7 separate regions of the Homo sapiens genome follow, and all the other regions are reported to be linked to region 1. Evidence: microRNA targets listed by miRTarBase, many of them from high-throughput screens and not tested one by one. Region 1 holds a microRNA gene; each other region holds the end of a gene's coding sequence.

Region 1 (4,492 bases):
CCGCAGCTGCGTGGGAGGAGGGGTGGTCTGAGGGACGTGGGATGCCGGGAATGAGGCTGGTTTGCAGGTTGGCGCATGGACATTTTCCCAGAAAGGGACAGAGACGGCGAAGTTTGACGGTCTGGAAAGCAGAGACCAGCAGGGCTGACTGCTTGGGAGGTAAGTTCTGGGGACATGGTACAGGGTGAGGAGCAGGTATCAGTGCTAGTTGCGACCCCTCTGTGTCTCCCCCCCGCCACCCCATTGCCATTCTGAAGCTCCCCAGGAAGAAGCTAGGAGGGGAAATAAATTGAGTGGGGGTGGGGTTTCCCAAGAATCGGAGGAACCGAGAACGAAGAGGGGTGGGGGAACGGGGAAAGAGAGAGGAAAATCAAGTTTTCTTCAGCACGAGGGACAGCTCTCCACCGACCGAAGGAGGAGAATGCTATTTATTTCAGCACCAAATATCCGGACAGCGCCTCTCGGGAGGTCCGAGAAGAGAACCGCGATCTGTTTCAGCACCGGGGCTCAGGACAGTTCCCAGCGGGCTCCGTTTCGTCTCCAGAACCCTGGACAGCTCCTCCAGGTAACGGGAGAGCCCTTTGACCCTGATTTTGCAGGGGGAGGACGAGAGAGGGTGGTCTGAGGTGCCTGGCATTTCTGGAGACCTGCACCTCATGTAATGGATTTTTAAACAAAGTATTTTCCAGATAAGCACACACAGAAGTCTGCAATTTTCTTTTTTTTTCGAGACGGAGTCTTGCTCTGTCGCCCAGGCTGGAGTGCAGTGGCACGATCTCGGCTCACTGCAACCTCTGCCTCCTGGGTTCAAGGGATTCTCCTGCCTCAGCCTCCCGAGTATCTGGGATTACAGGCACATGCCACCACTCCCGGCTAATTTTTGTATTCTTAGTAGAGACGGGGTTTCACCATGTTGGCCAGGCTGGTCTCAAACTCTTGACCTCTTCATCCGTCCACCTCAGCCTCCCAAAGTGCTAGGATTACAGGCGTGAGTCACTGCGCCTGGCCCAAGTCCGGAATTTTCAACAGGTAAGATACCTCACTGGGGTAACAGCTGCCTGCTAAGATGACATTATGGTGTCTCTTCCAGACTTCGGTGAGAAACCTTGTGCCAAGCATTTTACATACATCATATCATGCCATCTTCAACCCTAGGACATGGGTGTTACTGTGCCCATGTGACATTTGGGGAACCCAAGGCCCTGAGAAAGGCAGAAAAATAACCCACGCAGGGACTCTCAGCCCACAAGTGAAGCTGTAAGTCAACCCCACCAGTCCAACTCCAAATCCCATGTCTCTGACGTGCCTGGGTGGGAGGTGGGCCCTTGGAGATCAGACCCTGCTTCTCTCCAGGAGAACCGGGAATGGAAAACAGGGAGGCAGCACAGAGGCAGGAAACTCAGGTGTCATAGCTTGGCTCAGGTGAGAAGGAGGAGCTGGGCAGGGGTCTCAGACATGGGGCAGAGGGTGGTGAAGAAGATTAGAGTGGCTGTGGTCTAGTGCTGTGTGGAAGACTAGTGATTTTGTTGTTCTGATGTACTACGACAACAAGTCACAGCCGGCCTCATAGCGCAGACTCCCTTCGACCTTCGCCTTCAATGGGCTGGCCAGTGGGGGAGAACCGGGGAGGTCGGGGAAGAATCGCTTCCACTCGGAGTGGGGGGGCTGGCTCACTCCAGGCGATACAGGCACAGGCAAAGGAGGGAAGCAAACAAGGACATACATCCTGTGCTCATACAGCCATGCACCATGTATGGGGTTTGTCACATCACTCGTACGCCCCCACAAGCCTGGAGATAGAACATACCTGACTCTAAACCCAAGACCTCTAACCACCTTATGGCGCTTTCCTGGGAGACCCAATGAGGGAATGACATTTAAAGCCCTCCCTAGACCAGAGTTCTCAGGGTACTTTTCTATTAAAAAAAAAATTATTATTTTTTTGGCCGGGTGGCTCACGCCTGTCATCCCAGCACTTTGGGAGGCCAAGGCAGGTGGACCACTTGAGGCCAGGAGTTCAAGACCAGCCTGGACAACATGGTGAAACTCCATTTCTCCTAAAAATACAAAAATTAGCTGGGCGTTGTGGCACACACCTGTAGTCCCAGCTACTCGGGAGGCTGAGGCATGGGAATCCCTTGAACCCAGGAGGCAGAGGCTGCATGACCCAAGATTGCACCACTGCACTCCAGCCTGGGCAACAGAGAGAGATTCTGTCTCAAAAAACATTTTTTTTTTCTTTTTTGTAAAGACATGGTCTCCTGCCTCAGCCTCTCAAAGTGCCAAGATTACAGGTGTGAGCCACCGAACCCAGCCTAAGGATACTTTTCAATAAAAGTTCCAGAAGTGGGCTGGGTGTGGGAGCTCATACCTGTAATCCTAACATTTTGGGAGGATGAGATGGGAGGATTGCTTGAGTACAGGAGTTTGAGACCAGCCTGGGCAATATAGTGAGACCCCGTGAGTTGACACATGCCTGTAGTCCCAACTACTTAGGAGGTGGGAGGAACACTTGAGCCTGGGAGATCAAGGCTGCAGTGAGCCATGACTGCACCACTGCACTCCAGACTGGGCAACAGAACAACACCCTGTTTCAAAAAAAAAGTTTCAGAAAAGATTCCTTTCCTGTCTGCTACCCATCAGTGTCATGGGCCAATCATAGGACAAGTGTGAACTTGTGCCCAGTGGTGACTTATGACATCATAAAGGCTCACCACCTTTGCCAGACATGGTGGCTCACACTTGTAATCCCAGCACTTTGGGAGGCCAAGGTGGGAGGATAGCTTGAGCTCAGGAGTTCGAGACCAGCCTGGGCAACATAGCAAGACCTCATCTCAGTAAAAAATAATAAATAAATAAATAAATATATAAGACTCACTCCCAATTCTCTGCAACACCCTAATCAAGTGAAAAACTGCACATGGTTACCTGTTCTCCAGCCTCAGGGCTTTTGCCTCTGCTGTTCCTGCAGCTTGGAATGCACTCCCTCCACCTCCAACCAGAGCTCCCCACAACTGACCCTGCCTTCTTCTGCAAGCTCCATTTCATCAAGGGAAACGATCCTTATTGCCTCACCATTTCCCACGTGAAGTCTGTATTGACATTCTCATAGACCTGGGATATTGTGTCTGCAGCACATAGTCCAATTATTTTCATGTTATCTACTGACAGGTCTATTTGTCTCCCTGTTACACTGTGAGCTCCGTGAGGGCAGAAACAATGTTAGTATTTTCACTGCTGTGTCCCCAGCGCCTGGTCCGGGGCCCGGCACACAGCAGGCATATAATAAGCATGTGTTGAATCAATAAAGGCATCAAAGAATAAACCAATACATCAATCAATAAATGAATGAATGGCCTCAGCACACACAGGAAGATCCTTCTTCTAGGTCTCCCCCAGAGAGATACTGGAGGGCAATGGTTGCTGGAGGTGTTTATTGGGGAAGCATAATTGAATTTGTGGACACTTAAGGGCCGGCCAGCCAACTCACAGCCCCAAGAGAGAGAGCCAGGCTCATTTAATTAGCAATTACAAGGCACTGATTCCTCATTAGCTCTGGCAACCCTCGTCTCCCTCCTCAGCCCCAGACAAATGAAATCTTTCTCTCTCTCCCAGGAGTACTGCCTCAGTGGGTCCATTAACAAGCAGAGAAAATGAGATTAGAAGACACCTAAATGCCAGAGGCACTTTATGAATGGGCTGAGCAGAGGGAGGTTCAATGTCTGGGTTAGGTCTAATTGTGGGAGGTTTCCTGGTCTATTTAGAATTGCCCCCTGGGAATGCAAGGTCTTTCAGAAAGGAAAAGGCACACAGATATTGCCTTCTGGGGTCCTCAATGGAGGAGGACATTCTGCTATGGGTGTCTCCCAGTCACCCCAAATTAATCATTTCAAAGTGAACACTCAATCTGCCCAGCCCCTAGCTTCCTCCCCTGACATGCCCATGAATATGACAGTCCCTCTACATGCCCAAGATCCTCCCCTCCTCATCCACTCCCCATGATCCCCAAGATGAGTCACTGTGCTCAAATCCATCCTCTCTCCTCCAGCCCTCTGCCTCCATGACCTCCCTCCAGCCCTCTGCCTCCATGACCTCCGCCTCCCTGCATGTCCGGATCTCCTCACTGTCTCCCCTCTGAGCATACACACACATACAGCCTGTTCATTCTCTACATGCAGCGAGGGGACTTTCCAGAACACACATCTGACCAAGTTCCACTCCTGCCTGTCACCCTTCCAAGAGCCCCACTGACTGCAGAATAACGTTCAAATATCCGGTTGGGCGTGGTGGCTCATGCCTGCAGTCCCAGCACTTTGGGAGGCCAAGGTGGGTGGATCACTTGCACAGGACCACAGGCGTGTGCCACCACACCCAGCTAATTTTTATATTTTTGGTAGAGACGGAGTTTCACCATGTTGGCCAGGCTGACCTCAAGTGATCCACCCGCCTCAACCTCCCAAAGTGCTGGGATTACAGGCATGAGTCACTGCAC
Region 2 (4,492 bases), not on the chromosome of region 1:
AATATCTATAAGTCCATTCTTACAAGTAAATGAAGAATTCCAAATAATTTATATAGATAAATTATTTTGTAGGATATATAGACATTGGCCCCCTCAAGAAAGTGGAGCTTCAATCCTCACCCTTTGAGTGTGAGCTGCACTTAGCAACATAGGAGGAAGGAAAAGTAACTTCACTGTAGAGAAACCTGGCAAACACTTCCTCTGTCAGCTGGTCAAGGTTGATATCATGAGTGATAAGGCATGTTGATAGCATATACCCTTGATGTGATGTGATGAGAATACCTCTTCATTCCTGTGGTCTTCCTCTTGAAAACCTATAACCCCAGTCTGAGAAAAAAATCAGACAAACCCAAACTGAAGGACATTTTATTTGTAGATACCTGACCAGTACTCCTCAGAACTGTCCAGGTCATCAAAAATAAAGCATCACAGGTCAGAGGAGTGTAAGGAAACATGACCACTAAATGTAGTATGGTGTCCTGGATGGGATCCTGGAGTAGGCAAAGACATTAGAGAAAAACTAGAGAATCCAGGCCGGGTGCAGTGGTTCATGCCTGTAATCCCAGCACTTTGGGAGGCCGAGGAGGGCGGATCACAAGGTCAGGAGATCGAGACCATCCTGGCTAATACGGTGAAACCCGGTCTCTACTAAAAAAATACAAAAAATTAGCCAGGTGTGGTGACGGGCGCCTGTAGTCCCAGCTACTCGGGAGGCTGAGGCAGGAGAATGGCGTGAACCCCGGAGGCAGAGCTTGCAGTGAGCCGAGATCATGCCACTGCACTCCAGCCTGGGCGACAGAGCAAGACTCCGTCTCAAAAAAAAAAAAAAAAAAAAAAAAAAAACTGGAGAATCCAAATAAAATGTGGGGTTTAGTTAATAGTCATGTACTAAGTAAGGTTGGTTCCTTAGTTGTGATGAATGCATCACAACAATACAGTAATAAAACAGGGAAATAGCCACTGCAATGGCTCACACTTGTAATCCCAGCACTGTAGGAAGCCCACGCAGGAGGAATGCTTGAGCCTGGGAGTTTGAGACCAGCCTGGGCAACATAATAAGACCCCGTCCTCTACAAAATTTTTTTAAAAAAATAGCCAGGTGTAGTGGCATGCACCTGCAGTTCCAGCTTCTCAGCTAGTTGGGGTGAGAGGATCACTGGAGTCCAGGAGTTAAAGGCTGCAGTGAGCTGTGATCACCCAACTGTACTCCAACCTGGGTGAGAGAGCAAGACCTTGTCAAAATAAAATAAAATAAAATAAAATAAAATAAAATAAAATAAAATAAAATAAAATAAAGAGGAAACTAAATGAAGGGGACACAGGAACTTTCTGTACTATCTTTGTAACTTTTTCTGTAATTCTATAACTACTCTAAAATAAAAAGTTAATTTAAAATATAAAAACATTTTGTTTCATTTTATAATGGCTGGGTAGATTTTCAGATCTTTAGTGAAGTAGGTCCCAGATGTCTAGAGGCAGATTGCAGAGATGGGCAGGCACCCATCCAAACCCAACTGAGTCTAGTGCACTGGCTCATGCCTATAATCCCAGCAATTTCGGAGGCTGAGGCAGGAGGATCACTTGAGCCCAGGAGTTCGAGGCTATAGTGAGCTATGATTGCACTACTGCATTCCAACCTGGGCAACATAGTGAGATCTTGTCTCTTAAAAAAAAAATTGAAAGTTAATGTTGCTTAATCTTTTACTGGCTCGTTTTGGCCCTCTCACAGAGTCACTGGCCTCAGTCTTCTCCTTTTCCCCCATTTAAGCACTTATTTTACAAGACCATTTTTTTCAGTTTAATGAGACACAAACTCTCAACTTTTTATTTAAAACAGAAATGCAGTAGTAAGCTAAACCTTTTGCCATTCATAGGGAAACAAATATCAGTAATCCTCTTTGTTCTAAACAAAAATTCATAATTATTTATACATTTTAAAATATTATATTGTTTCAAATATTGTTAGTGGGGCAATAAATCATAAAGAGATACAACCAGTCGAAATTAGACTTTTAAAGAATTACTCTCAAAGACATTGCAACAACTCCAAAGTCCAGGGATCTTATAAGACTAATTTATTAGTAACAACATTTACAAAGATAGCTTTTTAATGCTGAGTTGTATCTGATTTAATGCAGTCAGAAAGAAAAAAGAAACATTTATCTCATTTTGCTGATCTGTCAGATTTTGCTTAAGTTAGGAGAGCCTGCAATTTCAAGCCCAGATAACTGGAATTCCATGAATAAACACAGAAAGACAGGAGAAAGGCAAGGAAGTTCAAAAATCACAGTCTGGGGGGAAATCAGTAGAGTAAGATTACCAATAAGTGAAATATTGGTCATATGATTTCTTAGTTTCCATTAGTTATGCAAATATTTTACTGTTAATATTTAGATTAGTGTTTTAGAACGTTTTGTAGAGACTGAAAAGCAAATAAATAATTGCATTAGCATTGTTAAGTATCAGTGTTTTCTGTTTGACAAATAATCGTACAGCTGTGTTCTCAGGCTGCAATAACAAAACACCAGAGACTGAGAAGCTGAAACAACAGAAATTTGTTTCTCACAGTCTGGAGGCTGGAAGTCCAAGACAGAGTCCAAGACTCTCGCCAGCAGCGAGAGTTTGATTGTGAGGCTTCTCCTCTTGGCTTGTAGGTGGCTGCCATCTCTCTGTGTGCTCCCATGCCCTCTTGTTTGCATGCACAGGGAGGGAGGGAACAAGCTCTCTGGGGTCTCTCCCTATAAGGACACCAACCTTAGCAGATCAGAGCCCCACCATGACTTCATGTAACCTTAATTACTTCCTTAGCAGCCCCAGCTCCACAGTGCAGGTTGGGGCTTCAACACGGGAATTTGGGGGTGAAGGGTGGGACACAAACATTCAGTCCATAACAATGGCCCACCAAACCATGAAAGTAAATAGAAAAAAAATCACAGTTCAAGAATAACATAAAACTTAACTAGGTGTGTTATAGAGCAATGCATAGAACTAAGCTGAGAAGTTAAAACATAAACTCATTGATTTTTAAAGACAATCTTTCCCAAGTCTGGTTCACCTTAGGGCTGATACACACCTTCAGAACCAGATTTTGGTCTCTAATATCATCTTCCACTGAAAGCCAGGGCAAACAGGTTTATGTTCATTTCATCTTGGCCTATAATTTCTCCTTAAAGTGACCATTAATATTCACTATCACAATTAAGGCTTGGTCTGGGCCATTCTGAGAACAAGCTCTGGAGACCACAATTTTAAAGGATTAAATAATCATAACGGTATTCTTTGTCCTGACAAAATTATTAATCTGACAGTGACTGAATTATCTTCGGACTCTCCCAAGCCCTAAATGAATACAGCAAAGATAAATGTCAAGAATTCAGGAAACAATTGCTTCTGCTACGGCCAGTAAGCTCCTAACAGACCATGCTTCTGCAGAAAACGATTCTGGACAAATTTTTAAAAGCAACAAACTGCATGAAGTCACTTAAAAAAAGAAGCCCAGCCTTGGAAGAAAGAAAGGCCACAGGCTGAGTTTCTTATTTTTATGGCTTTTACCCAAAATGCAAGACACAGATCGGCATTGTGCAGGACAGCTAAAGTTCCTTTAGAAAACCACCATCTTTCTGGCTGGAAGAGTCAGGGGTCAGAATGGGGGGCAGCCACCGCTGCTGAAAGGGTTGGGGAAGGAACCCCTGAAAGGAGAGCCAGAAATGGGGGAGCTCCAAACTCTTTGTGTCAGCTCCGTCCAAATCTCTGACTTGTGAACTAAAAAGAAAGGTTTCTACCATCAGCAGACTGTCACCCATAGACATTTACATAGCATTTTGATTTGGAGTTCTTCCTAATGGCCACCCCACGGAAAAATATACAGGTGTTGTTTTGCCCTGGAAGCCAGACAGATCAGAACATTGGGTAAGATAGCTGGGTCAGCTGTCCTTGGATGGATCCCAAACACTATGCTCCTTTCCAGGCCTGAGAATCGCCGAACACTGTCCAACACAATGTGATCACCCAACATATCACATGCATCACTGAGCTGCACCACCCTTTTCTTCCTCATTGCTTTCAAGAGCTCATACTTATAGTGCTCCACTTCTTTTGCGGTGCTGACAAGCACAGCAACATCCTTTGGAGAATAGCCCCTATCAAAGAAGCGCCTGCACGTGTCTGCCACACAGGTCATTATTTGCTCCACAGTCAAGTATTTCTTAATTCGTAAGGTTCCCTGAACACCCTGGGACCATTCGGCTTCAGGAAATACCTCGAGGCACCCAGTGGGGATGTTAAATGAAGGATTACTTCTAATTACTTGCATTTCTTTTTGTAAGTACTTGGCTATTGGATCTGCATTGCGAACTATTCTGGTGAGCTCTTCTCTTGGATATTGGTCTGAGAGAGGAGGGAGGCCACTGCAATCCAAGTGGCTGGTCTGAAAGTAATCCAGAAAGATCCAGAGAATTCCTGGGCCACCCTTTGCTCTCCGAGTGATGCTTTT
Region 3 (4,492 bases), not on the chromosome of region 1:
CCTGTTTGCCCGGCTGGACGAGGAGCTGCATGGCACCTTCCCAGGCCTGTGGCTGGCGCTGATGGCGGTGCACGGAGCCATCTTCCTGGCAGGGCTGGTGCTCAACGGGCTGGCGCTGTACGTCTTCTGCTGCCGCACCCGGGCCAAGACACCCTCAGTCATCTACACCATCAACCTGGTGGTGACCGATCTACTGGTAGGGCTGTCCCTGCCCACGCGCTTCGCTGTGTACTACGGCGCCAGGGGCTGCCTGCGCTGTGCCTTCCCGCACGTCCTCGGTTACTTCCTCAACATGCACTGCTCCATCCTCTTCCTCACCTGCATCTGCGTGGACCGCTACCTGGCCATCGTGCGGCCCGAAGGCTCCCGCCGCTGCCGCCAGCCTGCCTGTGCCAGGGCCGTGTGCGCCTTCGTGTGGCTGGCCGCCGGTGCCGTCACCCTGTCGGTGCTGGGCGTGACAGGCAGCCGGCCCTGCTGCCGTGTCTTTGCGCTGACTGTCCTGGAGTTCCTGCTGCCCCTGCTGGTCATCAGCGTGTTTACCGGCCGCATCATGTGTGCACTGTCGCGGCCGGGTCTGCTCCACCAGGGTCGCCAGCGCCGCGTGCGGGCCATGCAGCTCCTGCTCACGGTGCTCATCATCTTTCTCGTCTGCTTCACGCCCTTCCACGCCCGCCAAGTGGCCGTGGCGCTGTGGCCCGACATGCCACACCACACGAGCCTCGTGGTCTACCACGTGGCCGTGACCCTCAGCAGCCTCAACAGCTGCATGGACCCCATCGTCTACTGCTTCGTCACCAGTGGCTTCCAGGCCACCGTCCGAGGCCTCTTCGGCCAGCACGGAGAGCGTGAGCCCAGCAGCGGTGACGTGGTCAGCATGCACAGGAGCTCCAAGGGCTCAGGCCGTCATCACATCCTCAGTGCCGGCCCTCACGCCCTCACCCAGGCCCTGGCTAATGGGCCCGAGGCTTAGTCAGCAGGGCTCTGCCAGGGGCCGAAGGTCAGGACTCATCTGGGCATGCCAGCGTGGACACCCACCATGCCAGGGGTGGCAATCGGTTCCATCTCGATTGATTGGTGATGGCTACCCAGAGCACCGCATTGAGCGTCTAAGGCCACTGTGCTGTGGTTGATTAGCAATGTCTGCCACTGGCTCCGATGGGATGTGGTGGCCTGAATGCCGGTGATTTGCTGTTCCTGGGGTATAGCACGTCCACTGAAAACTCACAGGGGTAGCCGGGAGCTGCTCCTCACTTTGGCCAGTTTGTCTCCAGAAGGAGTTCCTCAGAAAAAAGGGCACAGTGGATTCCATTGATTAGAAGGATGAGATGAAAAAGAAAAAAGAAAAAAGGACAAAGATTATTTAGGTGCTGGGAATTCCCAAGAGAGTTAAGAAACAACCTGAATTCCCGAGAGAGCTAACAACAACAATGCTCCCTCCAACACACACACAGGAGGAAGGACAAGGACAGAAAGAAAAGGCCAGGGAGCATTCGTGTTGCATTAATGGAGGTGGGGGGGGGTGCATGTCTCTGCAAGACCCCCCCACCTGAGGCCTCCGTGAATTGCACGATAAAACGGCAGACACCCACAGGCCGCTCTGCTGTGAGCAAGCACTGTGATATCTAGGTTGACACTTGAACCCACAACAACCCACAAAGGAGACGCTACTTTTCATCCATTTCTTGGTGCTGGAGGGGTCAAGTGACACACACAGGGGCCACAGCTGGGAAATGGCAGGGTCAGAATGAAAACCAGCCCCACCTCCTCCAGTGCCCTTGCACCTCCTTCCACAGAGAGTGCACGATCATCCCAAAGCCCCCACTCTAGGAATGGCCTCAGAATGGCTCACCTGCTGCCCCAGGTAGAGGCAGTGTTCACAGCCCCATCCTATGGATAAGAAAACCAAGAACAAAGTCACGCAGCAGTGAACCCAGGCATGCCGGGTTGTGGCCACCATCTCCCCATGCAAACAGCCATTTTCCTCCCCCCGGGGGCAGAGAGGACGTGACCAGCTGCTCTGGCCCAGCTCACTATGAGTCCCCATGCCTTCACTAGGGAGGGAGCTTTTCTCTGGCTGGGGCCTCTGATCATCTCCTCAGAGCTGGACTCCAGGATTTCCTCCCACGTGCCTTCTGCCGAGCGTCCAAGCTCCCAGCCCTTTCAGGACTGGTAATGGGGAAGGGAGCCTGTGGTGAGGAAGAGGAGTGTGGGGCATCCCTGGCACTTCCGGCTCTGAGGCCCTGCCATCAGACCTGGCCATAGCCACTGAAGCAGGCGAGATGGGCTCAGGTCCTCAGGCCAGGCCTTTGGCTACAGAGAAGTCCTACACACTCAGGGTGACCGTGGCCTGTGTGGCTGGGAGCAGGAGGGGGAGGAGGAGGAAAAGGCCGGGGCTCCCCGATTCAGCTCGAGGCAGAGTCTCCTGACCCCAGTTTAGGGTCCTGGACTTTATATCCCCATGTTACAAATGAAGAAACTGAGGCTCAGAGGGAGAAAGGGGCTTGCCAAGGTCATAGAGTGAGTGCCTGAGTCATCCAAGGCCAGTATTGTCCTCACCAACCCCAGCTGTGGCCATGTGGAGCAGCTGGGGTGGGGGGCACCGGCCCAGAGGAGTCAGAGGCGTGCCCCGCAAGGTGGTGGAACTGGGAGTGCTGCCAGGGTTACTTCCTCCCTGGGTCCGGATGCCCGAGAAGCAGTGGGTATCACCATGGCCGCCAGCATTCTTGATACTTACCAGGCACCAGGCACAATTCTGGAACCTTCCCCCAGCCCCCAGCTCTCGGGTGCTGCTCAGAGAGGGGCCGTGGCTTACCAGGGATGCAGGGTTCCACAAGGCAGAGGGGCCCAGCGTTCAGGAAAGGACGTGGCTGGGGGACAGGGCTGTGCATGCAGAAAAACCCCGCTGACCACAGGTGCAGCATTCACGGCGACTTTCAGGCAAGCAGGCACCAACAGCCAGCGAGCCATCATTCCCAGGGCTGCGAGCTGGCACCCACGTGGTCACATGCCTAGAGCTGAGGAGTGAGGGGTCAGGGCTCAGGTGTCCTGCCCAGCCCAAGCCATGAGCTTCTTCCAGGCTCATGTGGCCCAGCAGTCCCTGAATGGCCTTGCTTACCTGGGACCCCTCCACCCACGCTCACAAGTCATCCAGGGCCAGGGACTCTGGACTCCATTCCTCCAGGAGCTGTGGATCCTCTTGCTCCATCTTAGGGGGCGCCCCAAGCCCCAGAGACTACCTGCCGGCTCCCACTCCCGCCCCTCAAGCAAGCTCTGCACGTGGCCTAGAGTATGACACCCCTCTGCCCTTGGTCCCGCACTGTACTGTGAAGACCTCTCCAGCCCAGGGCTGCAAGGAGGCAGGGGCCAGCGGGAAGGAGTGCTAAGATGAGGGGGAATGGCCTGGGCAAAGGTAAGGCCAAGCGCCCGCCTCGCTGGGGCCAGTGAAGGGCCTTCCATGCAGCTTCCCAGCCCCTCCCCTCCCCTACCAGTCTTCCCGGCCCCTTCCCCGCCAGTCTTCCCTGCCCCTCCTCCACCGGTGTTACGTGCCCCTCGGGCCTTTGGCCTCCCCATCAATGACCCCCAGCCTGGCTCCATTCCTGGTTGTCACTCTAATTCACGCTAAAGAGTGAATGGCTGACACTTGAGGATTGCTGTGCTTGAAGAGGCAGGGCTTGCAATTTTTCTGGAACAATCCCTTTCTTCAGGAGGAGGGGTCTCTAAGGCAGGTGAGCCAGGTCCCCTCCTTGTCCCCACATCTGAAATCCAATCATTCAACTTGGGTTCCTCGGGCCTCAGAGGCTTCTCAGACTGTAAGAGGCCGGGAGGGGAAGGACATCCTGTCCGAAGCGGCAAGTGCGTCCACTACCACTCATGCTGGAGAGGACAGGCCGCCTGTCTTCTGTGGCCAGGGACACAGGCTTGGGGCCCACCCTCAGACCTCTGAGAACTGCCTGCCAGCCCCCGATGCAGAACCCTTGATAGGCAAGCCTCAGTTTCTCCACACCCCACTCCTCTTTCTCCTCTCCTCAGCCTTACAGCTGGAGGGCAGGGGGCTGGGGAAGGGGGTCACCCCAATGCCCTGGACTGGGCCCCACAGCTCCCCCGGCTGCTTGCTTCCTTCTCCTGACGGCCGGCTCCTTCCCACTTCAGCCTCCTCTGTGGGCACCGAGGCCCAGGAGCTTCAAAAGTCAGACCAAGACTGTCCTTGGTCCCACAGGGGCAGAGGTGAGATCTGTGCGTGCCCCCTCTCCACACTCACGGGGACAGGGCGTGAGATCTTTGCGCCCCCTCCCCATGATCTCCCTTTCCAGATTTTCAAAACGCCCAAGTGACGTGAAATGGTGTGTGTATTTATATCCGACGTAAACAATCTCCTTCACGAGATGTCCTCGTCTGGAATTAAAGCTGTTTATTCTATTCTTGCCCACGACTCTGGTCCTGGGCTGGTGGGGGACATGGAGCTGGCGGAGGGTATGGAGCAGGGTGGCAGCCC
Region 4 (4,492 bases), not on the chromosome of region 1:
ACCAGATGCAACCCATTTAAGAAATATAGATTCTTTCGTGCCTTGGATTTATATGACTGTGTCATACACATGTAACAGTTGCCAGATCGGCAGTGGGTCACAGCGCTTCAGCTTTGGTTTCTCTGCCCCACTCCTACTGCTGCCGAGCTTTGTCCGTGGGTTAATAATCTGTAATGTATTCTCAAATGCATCATGGTACTAACCATATAAAAGGTATTCTACAGTGAATCTTTCAGCACTGAAAAATCTACTCCTCACTTTGGTTTTCAGTTACATTTTTTTTTTTGAGTTGGATAAACCAGCCCTGGGCCTTACCAATTTGTAATCAATAAGGAATGTTTAAGTGAGGGTGTGTCTGTCCTATGTTTCAGTGGGCAGCGGTTGGGGAATATGCTCATCTGATTGACTATATCTGAACTGTTTCACAAAGCGCTCTTTGGGGAGATGTTAATAGGTGTGCTGCAGAAAATGGCTTCCACAGTCTTAAATAAGCTTGTGAGAGACAGCCTGTTATATTCTCCTTGGAGCTTTACCAGGTACATCTCAGAAGGCTCTGAGGCAGGCTTCAGTTAACCATGTTTAACCCAGCCATCTCCAAATTTATTTGAGCATGGAGCCAACTTTAAATTGCATACCTACCAACATCCTAGGGAAGGGTGTGCAGTTTGGGGAATACTAGTCAAAAAGTCTATCTATTTGGGCTTTTGTGCAAAGTCCCTCATTTCCTAGGAAACCTGACCCTATTTTCTTTTTTTCCCTAGGACGACTGCCCTGCTCCTGTCTGTCAGTCACCTGGTGCTGGTGACAAGGAATGCCTGCCATCTGACGGGAGGCCTGGACTGGATTGACCAGTCTCTGTCGGCTGCTGAGGAGCATTTGGAAGTCCTTCGAGAAGCAGCCCTAGCTTCTGAGCCAGATAAAGGCCTCCCAGGCCCTGAAGGCTTCCTGCAGGAGCAGTCTGCAATTTAGTGCCTACAGGCCAGCAGCTAGCCATGAAGGCCCCTGCCGCCATCCCTGGATGGCTCAGCTTAGCCTTCTACTTTTTCCTATAGAGTTAGTTGTTCTCCACGGCTGGAGAGTTCAGCTGTGTGTGCATAGTAAAGCAGGAGATCCCCGTCAGTTTATGCCTCTTTTGCAGTTGCAAACTGTGGCTGGTGAGTGGCAGTCTAATACTACAGTTAGGGGAGATGCCATTCACTCTCTGCAAGAGGAGTATTGAAAACTGGTGGACTGTCAGCTTTATTTAGCTCACCTAGTGTTTTCAAGAAAATTGAGCCACCGTCTAAGAAATCAAGAGGTTTCACATTAAAATTAGAATTTCTGGCCTCTCTCGATCGGTCAGAATGTGTGGCAATTCTGATCTGCATTTTCAGAAGAGGACAATCAATTGAAACTAAGTAGGGGTTTCTTCTTTTGGCAAGACTTGTACTCTCTCACCTGGCCTGTTTCATTTATTTGTATTATCTGCCTGGTCCCTGAGGCGTCTGGGTCTCTCCTCTCCCTTGCAGGTTTGGGTTTGAAGCTGAGGAACTACAAAGTTGATGATTTCTTTTTTATCTTTATGCCTGCAATTTTACCTAGCTACCACTAGGTGGATAGTAAATTTATACTTATGTTTCCCTCAAGTGTGTAGTTATTGAGTCAAATTCATATGCATGGTGTATTGTGGGACATACTTAGATGGAAGGAGAGAGCCTAAGAATCCTGAGGATGATTTCTGTGTATGCCTCAAAATGAGATATTTAGGCTGGGCGCGGTGGCTCACACCTGTAATCCTCGCACTTTGGGAGGCTAAGGTGGGTGGATTGCTTGAGCCCAGGAGTTTGAGACCAGCCTGGGCAACATGGTGAAACCTCATCTCTACACAAACTACAAAAATTAGCTGGGCATGGTGACACGTGCGGCTGCTTGGTAGGCTGAGGTGGGAGGATCGCTTGAGCCCAGGAGGTGAAGGTTGCAGTGAGCCCTGATTGTGCCACTGCATTCCAGCCTGGGCGACAGAGTGAGACCATGTCTCCAAAACATACATATATATAAAATATATTTAAAGACCTCTTGGAGTTCAGGCAGAAGTGAAGATAGCACTATGAAGTAGTTTCCACATTAACAATAGCAATGACTTGAACGATGTGTTCCCCCTTTCTTCTGATATTAATATCTGTTCATTTTGCAAACATTGAAAGATTATGAAAGCTATGACCCAGAATCACAATTATATAATTTGGATACATACCCAAATGGCATAATTTCTGTCATAAGCCTGTAGGAAAAGCTTGAATTCTTCACTTCTCAGATTCTCAGAGCCAGCTTGCTCTTGGGAGAGGGGCCTGGTATAGGGGCTGCCCAGGTTCGTAGCCTATGCTGTCAAGCATGTTTGGAGTTGCACATCTGTTCCCATGTCATTTTCTCTGTCTAACTGAAGTCAGAAAATTCCTCAGCTGGATTCTGGGGAACCAGGAACCCATATTCCCAAATCCAAGATTGGGACCTGGTTTGTCTTTCCATTTGGGCACATTTCATTCTTTCCAGGAAAACAGGCCACTTCCAACCTGCACAATGTACACCAAACCACAGAACCACAGCTGGGATATGGAGTCAGGAGAGGGAAGCTGGAGCTCAACTCTCATGGACTAAAGGATGGATTCTGGATGGGCTCCAGGGGACACCTTATTGGATTGGTGGCTTCCATCAACTCTTAAAAACGTTAAGTGGTGAACTTTCCCGTCCTGTCAAGCTGTGAATGGGGAATGTATACAAAGTCACTTTGACTTTTCTATTTGAGGCCTCCACAGTAAACATCCAGAGTCATCCTATTTTTGTCTTTTTACCTCCCTTTCAGAACCTGTTTTCGTAATTAGACTGGAAAGCAATTCATGCTAAGTTTGCAATGGCTGCCACAGTTGTAAGTGTCCCCTGCATTTTAACCTGCACTAGAGCCCTAAGCCACAGAGAAGCAGTTCTGAATTGGTATCTCAAATACCATCCACCTGGTGTGGGTCTGCAGGGTGGAGAGCTTTCCCAGCACCCCTGAAGCAATGCCCAATGTCGATTACCTTCTCTGAGTCCTGGCAAGTCCTGGCACATTGGCTTTCTGGATCCCTTAGATGCTGCCCTTTCTGTTGTGAGGAGAGGTTGCCGAAGATATTGGAGGTGTCTGCTGGACTGTAGGATTTCTGATCCCACTGCTGTGTAGTTTTTTTTTCTAGTGCTGGACAAGTAAGAAGCCTCTGGATAAATTTGGTGTTGGTGGCTGATGGTTGAAGTGGAAGCAGTCTTTGGGGTAGGAGGCAATGCCACTCCTCTAGGCCCTTCGGGAGTTGGCTGAAGTTACTTCCTCCCTTGGAAGGGGCTGGTTAGTGAGTGCCAGGGATCTCAGGACTGTCTCTGTGCCAGGTGTGGTTTCCCAGGCAACAGACACATTCCTAAGTGCCTAGTTCTCTAGCGTCTGTATACATGGTAGTAGAGCCTTCCTTCCATGTCTCTCTTCCCTCTGGCCTGGAATAGGAGCATTAGACTCAAATTCTGATGAAAAAGAAATTACTTGGAGATAGAGATTCAATGTGAAGAGAACAAGATATTTGAAGTCAGAATTAGGTTTGAATTTGGGCTCAGTGACTTACAGTGTGAGCTTGGTCAAGTTCTTAACATTCTGGTCCTTAGCATTCTCATCTGTATGGTCAAGGCTATTGTCATTGGGTTGGTATGTCAACAAGCAAAACGGTATGTGTGAGCTGCCCAATTGTGGGCCTGGTTCTGATTAGCCAATGTTAACACCCTTCTCTCCACAGCTTCCCATTCTCTGATGCCGCTGACCCAGATGGCGTCACCTCAGTTACCATGGCTTGGTCCAAGCAGTGACTTCTGTTCATGGGCTCTGGAATTGAGTGGCCAAAAATCTGGAATCCCTACAGTAGGGAGAGTAGCCTTGTCCCTGCCCCACTACAAGTCTGTTCATATGAAGACATACAAAGCCGTCGCCTCTAATCAGTGTTCAAAGGGTCGATTGTGCAACTCACATTCCTCCAGAGAAATTCCCCCAGCTTGTGAGATCTCCAAGAGGGAACACGTATTCCTGGCATCCAACTTCCCCTGGTGCTCCCCCTGACCTGCCTCATTCCAGGAGTTCCCTCTCCAGAGACCCTGTGTGCCCACACGAGCAGACTTTTAGAAAATGGCCTACAGTTCAAAGGCCCTGCATTGCTTTATGGCCTTGGAAATGTGGGGAAAGTGTCAGATGAAGAATTTCTATCCTCCTCACCTCCTCCCTGTCTCCAATAAATGCATACCAAGAGCTTTCTGTGGAAGAGGGTTCGTGCTAGATGCTGGAGCTATGAAACAAAAGGCACAATCCCTGCCCTTAAGGAGCGATAGAGAAATGAGCAACTGCTGGAGCCATGACTGTAGCCAGTGCTGTGATGGAGGGGACCACAAGAGGGACTGTGGGCACACAGAGAAGGGACAGGGCAGGGGTGGGGTTGAAATAGGGCAGAGC
Region 5 (4,492 bases), not on the chromosome of region 1:
GTGCACAAATCCTGGCTTCCTTAGGTATCTCTCCTCATTATTCTATATTCCCTCTACAGGCCAGCTGTGGAGTCAGAGGAAGAGCATTCAGCATGAGGAAAACTGGGCTCAAATACAAGATCTGCATTTTTCTAATTGAAAGACATGGGCTAAATCACTTCATCTTTGAGAGATGTGACTTCTTCATCTGGAAGGAGGGCTATTGCCATCTGTGCCACAGGACTATTTTGAAAATTCAGAGACAATAATATATGTGATAGACGAAATGCACACGCCCACATGCATATGTACATTTCATATGTAATGAAATGGCTACTTTCTCTGAACCTACGTGGCACATTAACTTCTTTTGTAGCATTTACCACTTTTCCTTGTTTCATTTTTTTCAAAGCAAGTATTTGAGTGCTCAGTAGTGCAGGACAATACACTGTGCTATGTCCCTTGACTGATATAAAAGGGAGAGAGACACATAGTTTGACTTGGAGGACCATCAAGTCTTGACTGTACAAGTGTCTTCCTTCCCCAGCTGGAATCCTCATTCTCCATCCTGGCTCCCTTTCTTGAAGTTTAGTCATTCTGCAAGTCTCTTTGTTGAAAACTTGACTTATCAGCTCCCCTCTGATCCATGTTCTGTTAATTTTGCTCCAAAGCTTTGTATCTTCATTCTACTATTTAATCCAATACATCCACAAGAGTCACTGGAACACTAAAAACACACCCAAAATGGAACTTTTTTTTTTTTTCTTAAATTGCTGTTTTGTTCACTACTGTCATTAAGGGCATCTTTTTCCTTTTAGTGACTCGAACTCAAAATCTTCTAGACATCTTATTGCTATCATAATAATTCATTCTATGGTTTCTATTTCCACACTACGTTTGCATCTGGATCGTAGATGCAAAGAAGGATACCTTCTTATATAGTATCTATCCTCTTTGGTACTTATTATTTCACCATGGGCAATAAACACCTAATTCCATTTGATCTTACTGAGTTTATCCGTAACAGCAAAATTAGTCTTGTATTCATTTTGTATCTTCACTCTCTCTTCCCTAGATTGCTTTAAGAGATGTGTAATTAAACTCCTGATCTCATCACTCTCCCCTCCTCCCTTACTGCTCTCTTATCTATCCATTCTTGATTAAAGAGAAGCTCTCTTCATTGTTTCATTCAGAGCTTTTATCTATGTATCTATGTAACTATCAATCAATCATAATTTCATGAACACCCTGGACTCACCACTTAATCTGAATATTAGGACTGTAGTAATAACCTACATCTAACTATGTGATAACCCTAGTTCTATTCCCCCATTTCTCCTTTTGAATTTTCTCTTATCCTGAATCCTGTGGTCATTCTTTCTTTGCTTTTGTTTTTGTTTATTATTATTATTATTTATTAGTGACTGTCTTAGTAAGATTTTAGGAGGAGTTGTATTATCTTTAGATATAGTCTAAACTATGAAGTAAGCACAGAAATATTTCCCCAGGTCAGTTTCTTTTTTTTATTATTATACTTTTAATTCTGGGGTACATGTGCAGAACATGCAGGTTTGTTACATAGGTATACACGTGCCATGGTGGTTTGCTGCATCCATCAGCCTGACATCTGCATTAGGTATTTCTCCTAATGCTATCCCTCCTCTTGCCCCCAACCCGCTGACAGGCCCTGGTGTGTGATGTGCCCTTCCTTGTGTCCATGTGTTCTCATTGTTTAACTCACACTTATGAGTGAGAACGTGCAGTGTTTGGTTTTCTTTTCTTGTGTTAGTTTGCTGAGAATGATGGTTTCCAGCTTGATCCATGTCCCTGCAAAGGACATGAACTCATCCTTTTTTATGACTGCGTAGTATTCCATGGTGTATATGTGCCACATTTTCTTCATCCAGTCTATCATTGATGGGCATTTGGGTTGGTTCCAAGTCTTTGCTACTGTGAACAGTGCCACAATAAATATACTTGTGCATGTGTCTTTATAGTAGAATGATTTATAATCCTTTAGGTATATACCCAGTAATGGGATCACTGGATCAAATGGTATTTGTGGTTCTAGATCCTTGAGGAGTCACCACACTGTCTTCCATGATAGTTGAACTAATTTACACTCCCACCAACAGTGTAAAAACCTTCCTATTTCTCCACATCCTCTCCAGCATATGTTGTTTCCTTACTTTTTAATGATCGCCATTCCAACTGGCATGAGATGGTGTCTCATTGTGGTTTTGATTTGCATTTCTCTAACGACCAGTGATGTTGAGCTTTTTTTCATATGTTTATTGGCTGCATAAATGTCTTCTTTTGAGAAGTGTCTGTTCATATCCTTCGCCCACTTTTTCATGGGGTGGTTTTTTTCCTGTAAATTTAAGTTCTTTGTAGATTCTAGATATTAGCCCTTTGTCAGATGGATAGATGGCAAAAATTTTCTCCCATTCTGTAGGTTGCCTGTTCACTCTGATGATAGTTTCTTTTGCTGTGCAGAAGCTCTTTAGTTTAATTAGATCCCATTTGTCAATTTTGGCTTTTGTTGCCATTGCTTTTGGTGTTTTAAACATGAAGTTTGCCCATGCCTATGTCCTGAATGGTATTGCCTACGTTTTCTTCTAAGGTTTTTATGGTTTTAGGTCTTACGTTTAAGCCTTTAATCCATCTTGAGTTAATTTTTGTATAAGATGTAAGAAAGGGGTCCAGTTTCATTTTTCTGCATATGGCTAGCCAGTTTTCCCAACACCATTTATTAAATAGGGAATCCTTTCCCCATTTCTTGTTTTTGTCAGGTTTGTCAAAGATCAGATGGTTGTAGATGTGTGGTGTTATTTGTGAGGTCTCTGTTCTGTTCCACTGGGCTACATGTCTGTTTTGGTACCAGTACCATGCTGTTTTGGTTACTGTAGCCTTGTAGTATAGTTTGAAGTCAAGTAGCATGATGCCTGTAGCTTTGTTCTTTTTGCTTATGATTGTCTTGGATATACGGGCTCTTTTTTAGTTCCATACGAAATTTAAAGAAGTGTTTTCTAATTCTGTGAAGAATGTCAATGGTAGTTTGATGGGAATAGCATTGAATCTATAAATTACTTTGGGCAGTATGGCCATTTTCATGATATTGATTCTTTGTATAAAAGAGGATGGAATGTTTTTCCATTTGTTTTTGTCCTCTCTTATTTCCTTGAGCAGTGGGTTTTAGTTTTCCTTGAAGAGTTCCTTCATGTCCCTTGTAAGCTGTATTCCTAGGTATTTTATTCCCTTTGTAGCATTTGTGAATGGGAGTTTCTTGAAAGGTTTAAAGGATGAGAAAATAATGTCTGGTTTGATTATCCCTAATTATAATATTACGTTTCAGATATTAATATCTTATTCATTCCACTTCCACCAGTATTTATTGGATGCACTTTATCTGACCAAGATTGGGAAGGTACAGTGATGTGTAAAAACAACTCCTGCCCTCAGAGGCTTGCAAGCCTAATAAGGGTGATTAAACTTAACAGTCAAATAAAAATGGACACATGAATAGTGATTTATAATCTTGGAAGCATGAGCTATTGTAATCAACACACCATGTGACCCATGTAGGGCACTTATTATTCCTAACATGTAGATGTGAAAGCTGAGGCTCAGATCTTCCCAACTTGACTCTGCTCATCAGGACATATGCCCTATATCCCTGTGCTGCCACTCTGCCAAAAAGAGCAGCAATGAGTTGAAAGTGGTAATTTCAATAATCACTTATTATTAACTTATTAAAATGTTATAAGAGTTCTGAGATTAGGAATTTCAGGCTAGAAAGATCAGAGACTGCCTCTCGTAGGAGGATGACATCAGAACTGGATTTCCAATATACCGTAACTGGTGACTACGGTATCCAATGTAGGCCCTCACATTGGTTACGAGGAGATTCTCTTGTTGAAGAGTTTCCGCAGGGCAGCCTTCATGTCCCGATTTCTCAGACTGTAGATGAAAGGATTTAACATTGGGGTCACTGCCGTGTACATTACAGTGATCACTGCGTCTTTTAGGCTATAATTGGTCAAAGGGCGGAAATACGTGCCCATGACTGTACCATAATACAAAGAGACAACCGTGAGGTGGGAACCACAGGTGGAGAAGGCCTTGAGCACGCCCTTGGTGGAAGGAACCTGGAAGACTGTGGAGAAGACTCGAATATAGGAGACAATGATGCATAGTAATGGCACAGAGAAAATGCCAACCCCTAGGTACATCATCTTCACATGAAAGTGGATGTCAGAACAGGATAACTTCAGCAAGGGGGTAATGTCACAGTAGAAGTTGGCCACTTCCTGGTTGCCACAGAAGGACAGACTAGCTGTGAGCAGAGTGTGGGGGAGGGCATTGGCATTTCCAATCACCCAAGACCCAGCAATAAGCCAGATACAAGACCGTGGACTCATAATTGTTGTGTAGTGAAGTGGGCGGCTGATGGCCACAGCTCGATCATATGCCATTGCAGCCAAAATATAGCTGTCTGTGTTACCCAAGGCTA
Region 6 (4,492 bases), not on the chromosome of region 1:
GTAGAAGGACCCAAAGGATGAGGAGCCAGCAGACTATTTGGAATAAGGCATGTGGCATGCGGCCTGAGACAGAACAAGAAGTGCCTGAGAGAGAACAAGAAGTTCTTTCACAGAAGGGAGTAGGGACTGCTGGCTAAAAAGGGACCCCATAAAGCCCACAAAGCCCTTCTGTGATACATGCTTTGCTGGAAAGTCTGGCTGGAAAGTGGGAGCAAGGCCAAGATTCCATGGAGGCCAGAGGCCTAGACCAAGTCAACCCCACATTCCCTAAGTCACCTTTCTTTGTGAGCATGTTCTATGGAACAAGTCCCATAGTAAAATACCAAAAACCTAAGAGTTCAGTTGCACATGTGTACCTTTTTCCTTTTATAAATATTCATGACTCCTCCTATAGCTTATTAAATACATATATTCAGCCACCTTGTTCAACATAAATTCCTGTCCCCTTTGCCCCTCCCTCAGTTTGTGTTTCTGACTTCTGGCCAGAGGCTGTACTTCCCAGACTGTCAGAATGGCCACCCTGCAGACTGCAACCCTTTGAGAAATAAAGCTCTCCTTTCCAATTTTTAAAAATAAAAAAACCTGATGGTAAAGGAATGAAGCTGCTTTTGTTCTAATCTGCATTTCCCAAAAATGATTTGACAATATATTTTGTTTGGAGATGGAGTCTCACTCTGTTGCCCAGGCTGGAGTGTAGTGGCACAATCTCGGCTCACTGCAACCTCTGCCTCCCAGGTACAAGCAATTCTCCTGCCTCAGCCTCCCAATAGCTGGGATTACAGGCACCCGCCAACACGCCCAGCTAATTTTTGTATTTTTGGTAGAGATGGGGTTTCACCATGTTGGCTGGGCTGGTCTCAAACTCCTGACCTCAGGTGATCCACCCACCTGGGCCTCCCAAAGTGCTGGGATTACAGGTGTGAGCCACTGCACCCGGCTGACAATGAAGATTTTACAAATACCTTCTAAATTCATTTTGGGAAAGGCTAGTTTCAGCCCTTTCCAAATGTAACTCGTCTCCTCTGGGGAGCCCTCTCAAATTGCTTTAACTTACTCATCTCCCCTTCCTGTCTTGCAGCCTTTGATCATATAGGAACCCATGTGTCATGTTCTGAACCAGTCAGTCTCTAAGGCAGGTGCATAGAGCAGCTGTGTCCAGCTTGCCCTGGAAAGAACAAGTACCATGTGGCAGAAGAATAGGGACGGCCTTGCCAGGCTCTGCGGCCTAGCCCTGGTGGGTTTCCCAGAGATGACTGTGTGAGGAAGGGTGGTATGATTTGGCAGTTTCTCTCAGCTACAGCTCCAAATAGGCTCTAGAAGAGCATCACTCACTGTGGTCACTGTGTCTTCCCCTTACAAAGGGCAGTGAAGGTCTATGGTTCCAACTACAAAAAACAAAAATTAATATCCTATTCCCAGAGTACTATGCAAGCACTTTCAGCGTCATTCTCAGGGCACCATCCAAGCAGACAGGGCCTATTACCAACCCTTACTTATGTAACAGAAGTAACGTCACACTACTTCAGTACCCTGGGCATATCCACCCTCAGCTGGACCTCAGAGCAACTCATCTTGGGCTAGAGTTGGGGACCCAGAGCAAGCAGGTCTTAGTATTTGTGCCTGCACTTGACCTGCCTCTAACCTGGAGGTAATGGCTTGTGTTCCCCTTCTGCCACAAGCAATCCCAACAGCTCAAGCCAACCTTCCAACTAGTCATGTGGGGCCTTTTTGGCAGGCTCCTGGCTACACAATACTCACTCACACCATTGTGCACTGGAATAATTTTTATTTTTTTCCTTGGCAAAAAGTCAAGTGCTACATTTTTAAAAACAGAAAATCTCAAACAATCAAACGCATTACCCATTACAGAAGAGGGTCTAGCAATAGTACAAAACATCCTACTGAAGATTTTTTTTTTAAATATACAAGTCAGTTTAAAATGATAGAAGTTCTGTGAGAACTAAGAAATCTACAGCCTGTAGTTTAATAATAGAAAAAAAATTAAGACAATTAAAAGATCTATAGCATCCAGCATTTTGCTTAATTCCCTGTTTATAGCACCTATTTCTCTAGGTTCGAAGATGAGAATTCCAGAACCTGTGGTATGTGCTGTGTAACAAGTTAGGGTGGACTTGCTGTCTCTCCTCTCCAGTAGCCCCCCACCATTAAAAGGAGAATATATATATAATTTTTTTTCCAATTTCCCTTCTTACACCCAGAGAAGAGGGGGACAACTGGGAGAACAAGTTAAAAAACTGGGGTGCAGGAATAAATATGACTTTTCCTTTCCCCAAAATGGGATGTTGACAGAAAAGCAGAGTATGTGCTTAGAGGAACTGGTGGGTGGGAACAGCTGTTATCTTTGACATGATGTGTAAAAATCAGGGAACAAGTGGACATCACAGTCAGCTGCCTGCAAGTTTAAAAACCTCAGACTAAACAGACAGTTCAAGGGAGGAACAGACAAATTACTAATCACATTGATGCTGTCACATGCACAATGATGCTGACTGCAGGCCAGCCTGTCACCATCTCAGGGCTAAGCCAACAGAGTAGGAGGGGTGGCTTCAACCCCAAGTCCCACTGCAGTAAGAAAATGAATATTCCACACATGAAGCACTCACTACACACAGATAAACCCCCTGCTCACCCCCACCTTCTTAGACTTAACCCAATTTAGAAAATAATAGCAAAACCCACTGGGGAGATTGGAAGAATGGCAGAGAGGATTCTCCTCAAAGCCATGGGGGCTATGGATGTGAATCTTAGCAGACTTGAGACTCCCAGCTCCAGGCCCCTTAAAACCAGATCAGGTCTTGAGGGGAAGGAGAGAGAAGCTAGGATGGGGATTCAAGTCCCATGAAGCCTTTTGTAGCCTCTGGAGCTGCACCTGGATGGTGAGTCTGATGTTTTAGGGGTGTGGCTACTGGCTAAGCAGATGTGAGGGTGGGAAGGGGAAGTGACACCAACTTCCCACACGGGGGACACACAGGTGGGAAGACAGGTAGGGCTGGATCACTTTGCAGTCCTGGCATGGGAGGCCCCAGGAAGCCTACAATCTAACTAAAAAGATTTTCCCAGTGGTAATTTCTTTTCCTTTCTGTTTTTACTTCCTATTATCAGTGTTGTTAGACTTAAAAAACAAGATACAGACTAGTCCCAAAGCTGGACTCTGTGAATAAAGTTGTTTCTTTTATAAATATTTTAATTACAAGTAATCCTCACTCCAGGTAATTTCAGTGACACACAGTACCTACAGGCACACAAGATCACACACACACACGCAGACAAGATCTCTCTCTCACACACACACAGACACACACAGCTCCCAAACTTTCACAGAAAGTCTGAGAGCAACCATGTAATTATAAAGGAGCCCTACCTCTCAAGAGTGAAGTAAGGGTGAGCTATGTCATTTCAGCCTGAAGAAGCCAGAGACAGGAGAATGTGTGTCACTTAAAGAAAAATAGGGATTAGCAACAATGTTTGGTTGAAAAGCCAGAAATAATAAAAGATAGTAAAATTTTGATTACCAAAGGGGAAAACAAAAAGCAAAACAACTTTCAGATTTCTGTACAGAGCTTCTTCCTATTAAGTGCCTAAACTATAGGCAAACTTTGGTGTTCCCACTAAAACACAAGAGCCTCACACAATTAGGAAAAAAAAAATCAAAAGAAACAAGGAAACTGAGAATGGAAGTTAGTGTAAATCTCTGCATTTGGGGAGTTGTCATTAACTCCAGAGCCCAGCATAGTTTCCATGGAGCCCTGAAGGGAGGGGACCTCCTGCCACAAAGAGTTTCGTTCCAGACGAGTCGTAGCAGTGGGTGTAAACAGCATTGGGGAAGAAGTCAATGTCTGAAAAGTAATTCCTCCAGGTTTCATCATGATTCTACGGGAAGAGAAAGAGACTACAATTAGCACCTCTAGCCATGGGGCAGGAAAAGGGGGAGGAAGGGACAGGAATGCTTTCTGGTCTCCTTAAGGGAACAGGGTTCTACAGGTACAACCTCATGTCAGGAGATTGGCTGGTTGGTTCTCATGGGAATCAGGGCCTCATTTTTCCAACTAAACGTTAGAGAAGAACGGAGCAGCTGAAGAATTGCTATACAAGGCTCAGTTCTTCTCAGGAGACTTAGAACCAAAGTTCTGTTTTCCCTCCACCTGCTAGGCACAGGAGGAAGAACCAAACACTTGAATAATTCACTGGAGGTGGGGCGCAGTGGTTCATGGCTGTAATCCCAGAATTTTAGGAGGCCAAGGTGAGAGAATCACTTGAGCCCAGGAGTTTGAGACCAGCCTGGGCAACATGGCGAGACCCCATCTCTACTAAAAAAAAATAAATTAGCCGGGCACAGTGCATATGCCTGTGGTCCCAGCTACTTGGGAGGCTGAGGCAGGAGGACTGCTTGAGCCCAGGAGTTCAAGGCTACATACAGTAAGCTATGATCACACCACTACACTCCAGCCTGGGCAACAGAGTGACCCTGTCT
Region 7 (4,492 bases), not on the chromosome of region 1:
AAGGTTGAAACAAACAAACAAAAATATCAGTTAAAATATAGTGTTGGGGGCCAGGTGTGGTGGCTCACACCTGAGCTCACAGCTGAGGCAGGTGGATCACTTGAGGTCAGGAGTTCGAGACCAGCCTGGACAACATGGCAAAACCCCATCTCTATCAAAAATATAATCCTAGCACTTTGGGAGGCTGAGGTGGACAGATCACTTGAGGTCAGGGGTTCGAGACTAGCCTGGCCATCATGGTGAAACCCCGTCTCTACTGAAAATACAAAAAATAGCCGGGCATGGTGTTGAGTGTCTATAATCCCAGCTACTTGGGAGGCAGAGGCAGGAGAATCGCTTGAACCTGGGAGGCAGAGCTTGCAGTGAGCCGAGATTGTACCACTGCACTGCAGCCTGGGTAACAGAGTGAGACTCTGTCTCAAAACAAACAAACAAAATATAGTGTTGGTATTATCTGTGGAATTCATCTATCTATAGGCTTACTTTGCACCCCTTTTCCATATGTAATAAAAAATTGGCTGTTTAGGGGTTCTGTCACTGAATGTTAGTCTTTCCCCAAAACTTACGAAACATTTTTCCTTTCATTTTTAGATGCCAGCTCTTTTTAAAGAAAATAGAAATGATTTAGATTAAACAAGCCTGAAGATTAAACAGTAATCATTTTTGTCAACCACTCCAGGAAGAGTCATTACTACATATGCTAGCCAAATCAATCCATGCAGATGATATATTAAAATCTGTATAAAGGGTAAAGTCTTACATTCCAAAGATGTGATTACTTTTCTTCTAATTTCTTCCTGTGAATAATCAAATATATTCTATTTAACATAAACAGAAGAATACAGTGGTTTTTTGACCAAATATTCTCACAGAATACCACTCCCATATTATCAGGCCTTTAATGATGCACAAAAATAGTCATGGATTTCACTTCAACTTTTTATTTCCTCTGCAGGACATCCTTTTTCTGTCCAGGCAGGCAGATTCTTCATAATACCAACCAAATTTTAAAAGACACCAACTCTGAAATCCTTTGGAATTATAACGCAGATAAAAGAGCCTGGGTGGCCAGGCGCGGTGGCTCATGCCTGTAATCCCAGCAGTTTGGGAGGCCGAGGCGGGTGGATCATGAGGTCAGGAGATCGAGACCATCCTGGCTAACATGGTGAAACCCCGTCTCTACTAAAAATACAAAAACTTAGCCAGGTGTGGTGGCGGGGGCACCTGTAGTCCCAGCTACTCGGGAGGCTGAGGCAGGAGAATGGTGTGAACCCGGGAGGCGGAGCTTGCAGTGAGCCCAGATCGTGCCACTGCACTCCAGCCTGGGCGACAGAGCAAGACTCTGTCTCAAATAAAATAAATAAATAAATAAAGAGCCTGGGCAACATAGGAAGAGCTCATCTCTACTAAAAATCAGAAACATTAGCCAGGTATGCTGGCAAGCACTTGTTGTCCCAGCTTACTGGGTGGCAGGGGAGGGGAGTGTGGTATAAGGGGGTGGGGATGGGAGGTTGCTAAGGCAGGAGGACGGCCTGAGCCCAGGAGGAGGCTGCAGTGAGCCATGATCATACACCGCACTCTAGCCTAGGCAACAGAGTGAAACCCTGTCTCAAAACAGAAAAACCCAGATGAAAGGAAAGGACTGGTCTCTTAAGACCTAACCCTTATAATTTCCACTTTCACATAGTTTTGAGGAATTAGTTCCGAATTTAAACAAAGGAGCCAGAGAGAGCTGATTTTGTGAGATGCACTAGAAAAATAAATGTATATAACATACATATTATCCTTTTGATAAATCCCAGAACCGGACTGGAGGTATAGCTATTGATCAAAATATGCCTTACGGCTGGGCACGGTGGCTCACGCCTGTAATCCCAGCACCTTGGGAGGTCGAGGCAGGTGGATCACTTGAGGTCAGGAGTTCGAGACCAGCCTGGCCAACATGTTGAAACCCTGTTTCTACTAAAAAAAAATACTAAAATTAGCCGGGCATGGTGGTGAGTGCCTGTAGTCCCAGCTACTCTGGAGGCTGAGGCCAGAGAATTGCTTGAACCTGGGAGGCAGAGACTGCAGTGAACTGAGATCTCACCACTGCACTCCAGCCTGGGCAACAGAGTGAGACCCTATCTCAAAAAAAAAAAAAATAAAAATTATATATATATATATATATATATAATATATACATATAAAAATATATATATATACACACACACACCCCTTAGGTGGAAGAGAAAAACTATTTTATCTCACTAAAGTTAGTTTTGCACTTAAATTAGATAAATACGAGATGAAAATATATGTAGAGTATATATCTGGTCCTGAAGGAAGTGGTGAATAAATAAAAGCTATTATTATTGTTGTCATGGAAAGGATGGGGTTATTAGTTAGCTGTGGGAGTGGAGAGAGAAGGGTCTAGGAAGCCTAGAAGAGCTCTGGATGAACGATGTAGAGAAGACCAGAGGGATAGCTGGTTTGTAAGGAGAGATACCCTGAGTTTGAGGTAGCTGTGAAGCATCTTGAGTGGAGGTATTTCATAAGCAGTTATGTATATGCTGAGAAGTGATCAGGGAAGAGACTGAAGATCAAGGAGAGAGAGGGATCATTGATGAAGCAAGATGTCAGAGGAGAAAAGAGAGACTAGGCTCCACAGCACAGCCTAGGGACAGGGACAGCTCTTCCTCTGAAATCAGGACAGGCATGTTCAGGGCAAACATAAGCCGTGGTGTAGTAAGTTGAGGGAGCTCATGGCCGGGAGTGTCACTCTCTTCTTGTAGTAGGGGGACGGAAGAGAGAAGTGAAAGTTGGAAATAGCCACAGCTTCTGCCTTCACAGAGTAAAGCTTTGGCTCTCACCACAGGAGATTGCATGGGGACGCAGTTTCCTCTCCCGTCTGTGGACTTACGCACTTTCCTCTTTTTTCCTCTGGTCTGTTTGGTCTCTTGTCCTCTTGACTCTGACCCATCGTATCTCCTTGAGGATTTGCTCCGGCAATCATTTGTATCTTCTCACACCTTCCTTTATAACTCTTCATTGAACCCTACCCTAGCCTTTAAAAAATATCCTTCCTGCAACCCTTTTCTTTTCTAAAGCTATCATGGTTCCTCTCTTTTCACTCCCCATGATAAACCTTCCAAAAATTGTTATTTGCAGTTTACAAGGCACTTTCACACACTATCCTAAGTAGGTTATCTGAACTCATAGTGTTTCTGATAGCTATTTTCCTGTATCTCCAGTCTTCATAACTCTGATTTTTGAAGGCTGTATAATATTTCATGGATATGTGTCATAATTCACTTAAATATATTTTATGGACAGGTTTTCAAATCCTTACTCCATAGTCAGTGTTCATTGCCTTCCATGCTCTGGGCCCAAACTTCTGTGCCTTTCCCCATATTGTTTCCTTTTTTGGGAATGCACTTTCCTTGCCCACTAAAAGCTCTCCTTTCTTCACATCCACCATGCAGTACCTCATATTTAAAACATTTGTACCCTTTGAGATCTAATTCAGATCTCACCCTCATCCTCATCTGAAATGCCTCTTTCGTCTGTTTTATCTGACTTTTTAATGGCACTTAGCACATTCTTCCCTAAATTATAATGCAGGAGAGATAGTACGGAATAGGAAAAAGAGCACTCGACAGGGAATCATAAGATTCAGATTCAAACCCTGGCTCCTCCATAACATCTGTTTTAGGAAACTAAGTTCATAGTCACTCTAGTTTAAGAAGAGTTACAGGACTGTGCTAATATTGTTTAAGGATATAAATGTTTTGTATATTATGTTCTATCTTTCAAAGATCGTTAACATTCGCCTATATAAATGCAACTCTTGGTAAGAGTGAGCCGCCTATATAATTCAAATCTAGCAGATCCAGTCTGAAAAAAACTGCAAAGGACTTTGGGAATTAGTATGAATTATGATTGCACCTTAGGGGTAAGGTGTGAAACTGGACAAAGATCATCCTGTATTTAGCAAGGTTAAATGTGCATGAAGAACAATTAGAATATATTTTTATAAAAGTCTAGTGGGCACAATATGGTAAAAATTCAACACTATAATACAGTGGAGGATTCTTATCATAAATGGGGCCAAGGGCCAAAGAAGGTGCTGGGAGAAGAGTTTTCAATTTTCAAAATTTCACAGCAAAGCTGCTCCACTGGGCATGTCTCCACTTGTTTGATGGGAGGATTTGATCCCCTAATGAAAGAGTGTTGGTAACTGGAAGAAGAGGCATAAAACCTATAGTACATAAATACACAAGTTATTACCACCAATAAATGTATTTTCTATACTCTTCCCTTTATTGAGGGATGATTTATGTGCTGTAAAATTCAACTATTTTAAGTATACAATTCAGTGATTTTTAGCAAATTTATATAGTCATGCAATAATCACCACAATCTAGTTTTACAATATTTCCATCACCCCATCCCCAAATTTCCTCCATCCTATTTGCAGTCCGTCACTGCTCCCACCCCATGTTTCCCAAGG

Evidence for each region. Region 1 holds the annotated microRNA hsa-miR-7-5p (UGGAAGACUAGUGAUUUUGUUGUU, at 1,508-1,531, shown strand). A microRNA usually pairs through its seed, bases 2 to 8, with sites in the 3' UTR of a target mRNA and lowers its output. Matches are read on the target gene's strand: a 7mer-m8 pairs with bases 2 to 8, a 7mer-A1 pairs with bases 2 to 7 and ends in A, and an 8mer does both.
Region 2: miRTarBase lists SLFN11 as a target of hsa-miR-7-5p. Seed matches in the 3' UTR shown: 7mer-A1 at 3,626-3,632 and 7mer-A1 at 3,503-3,509.
Region 3: the mRNA of GPR20 is a reported target of hsa-miR-7-5p. The part of its 3' UTR that is shown has no 7-base or 8-base seed match.
Region 4: the mRNA of TMEM98 is a reported target of hsa-miR-7-5p. The part of its 3' UTR that is shown has no 7-base or 8-base seed match.
Region 5: the mRNA of OR1A1 is a reported target of hsa-miR-7-5p. The part of its 3' UTR that is shown has no 7-base or 8-base seed match.
Region 6: miRTarBase lists DCAF12 as a target of hsa-miR-7-5p. Seed matches in the 3' UTR shown: 7mer-m8 at 2,996-3,002 and 7mer-A1 at 2,710-2,716.
Region 7: miRTarBase lists CAGE1 as a target of hsa-miR-7-5p. The part of its 3' UTR that is shown has no 7-base or 8-base seed match.

The regions. Positions count from the first base shown.
Region 1 is chr19:4,769,193-4,773,684 of GRCh38, forward strand. It overlaps MIR7-3 (microRNA 7-3), which reads left to right and starts at 1,478; the gene lies at 1,478-1,587. MIR7-3HG (MIR7-3 host gene) reads left to right here. Exons shown (of 3, transcript NR_027148.1): 1 at 1-159; 2 at 438-565; 3 at 2,972-3,364. RefSeq lists a silencer at 345-639.
Region 2 is chr17:35,348,518-35,353,009 of GRCh38, forward strand. SLFN11 (schlafen family member 11) reads right to left here. Exons shown (of 7, transcript NM_001376007.1): 7 at 1,788-4,492. The coding sequence ends at 3,839. Among named protein-coding and RNA genes, the nearest start is that of SLFN11, 23 kb to the right of the region's middle.
Region 3 is chr8:141,353,325-141,357,816 of GRCh38, reverse strand. GPR20 (G protein-coupled receptor 20) reads left to right here. Exons shown (of 2, transcript NM_005293.3): 2 at 1-1,347. The coding sequence ends at 970. Among named protein-coding and RNA genes, the nearest start is that of GPR20, 12 kb to the left of the region's middle. RefSeq lists enhancers at 91-712, 713-1,334.
Region 4 is chr17:32,940,025-32,944,516 of GRCh38, forward strand. It overlaps TMEM98 (transmembrane protein 98), which reads left to right. Exons shown (of 8, transcript NM_015544.3): 8 at 762-4,291. The coding sequence ends at 969. Among named protein-coding and RNA genes, the nearest start is that of TMEM98, 14 kb to the left of the region's middle.
Region 5 is chr17:3,215,934-3,220,425 of GRCh38, reverse strand. OR1A1 (olfactory receptor family 1 subfamily A member 1) reads right to left here. Exons shown (of 4, transcript NM_014565.3): 4 at 1,530-4,492. The coding sequence ends at 3,876. Among named protein-coding and RNA genes, the nearest start is that of OR1A1, 11 kb to the right of the region's middle.
Region 6 is chr9:34,084,618-34,089,109 of GRCh38, forward strand. It overlaps DCAF12 (DDB1 and CUL4 associated factor 12), which reads right to left. Exons shown (of 9, transcript NM_015397.4): 9 at 1,770-3,891. The coding sequence ends at 3,733. Among named protein-coding and RNA genes, the nearest start is that of UBAP2, 38 kb to the left of the region's middle.
Region 7 is chr6:7,322,999-7,327,490 of GRCh38, reverse strand. It overlaps CAGE1 (cancer antigen 1), which reads left to right. Exons shown (of 14, transcript NM_001170692.2): 14 at 592-832. The coding sequence ends at 633. Among named protein-coding and RNA genes, the nearest start is that of SSR1, 12 kb to the right of the region's middle. RefSeq lists a silencer at 2,785-2,894.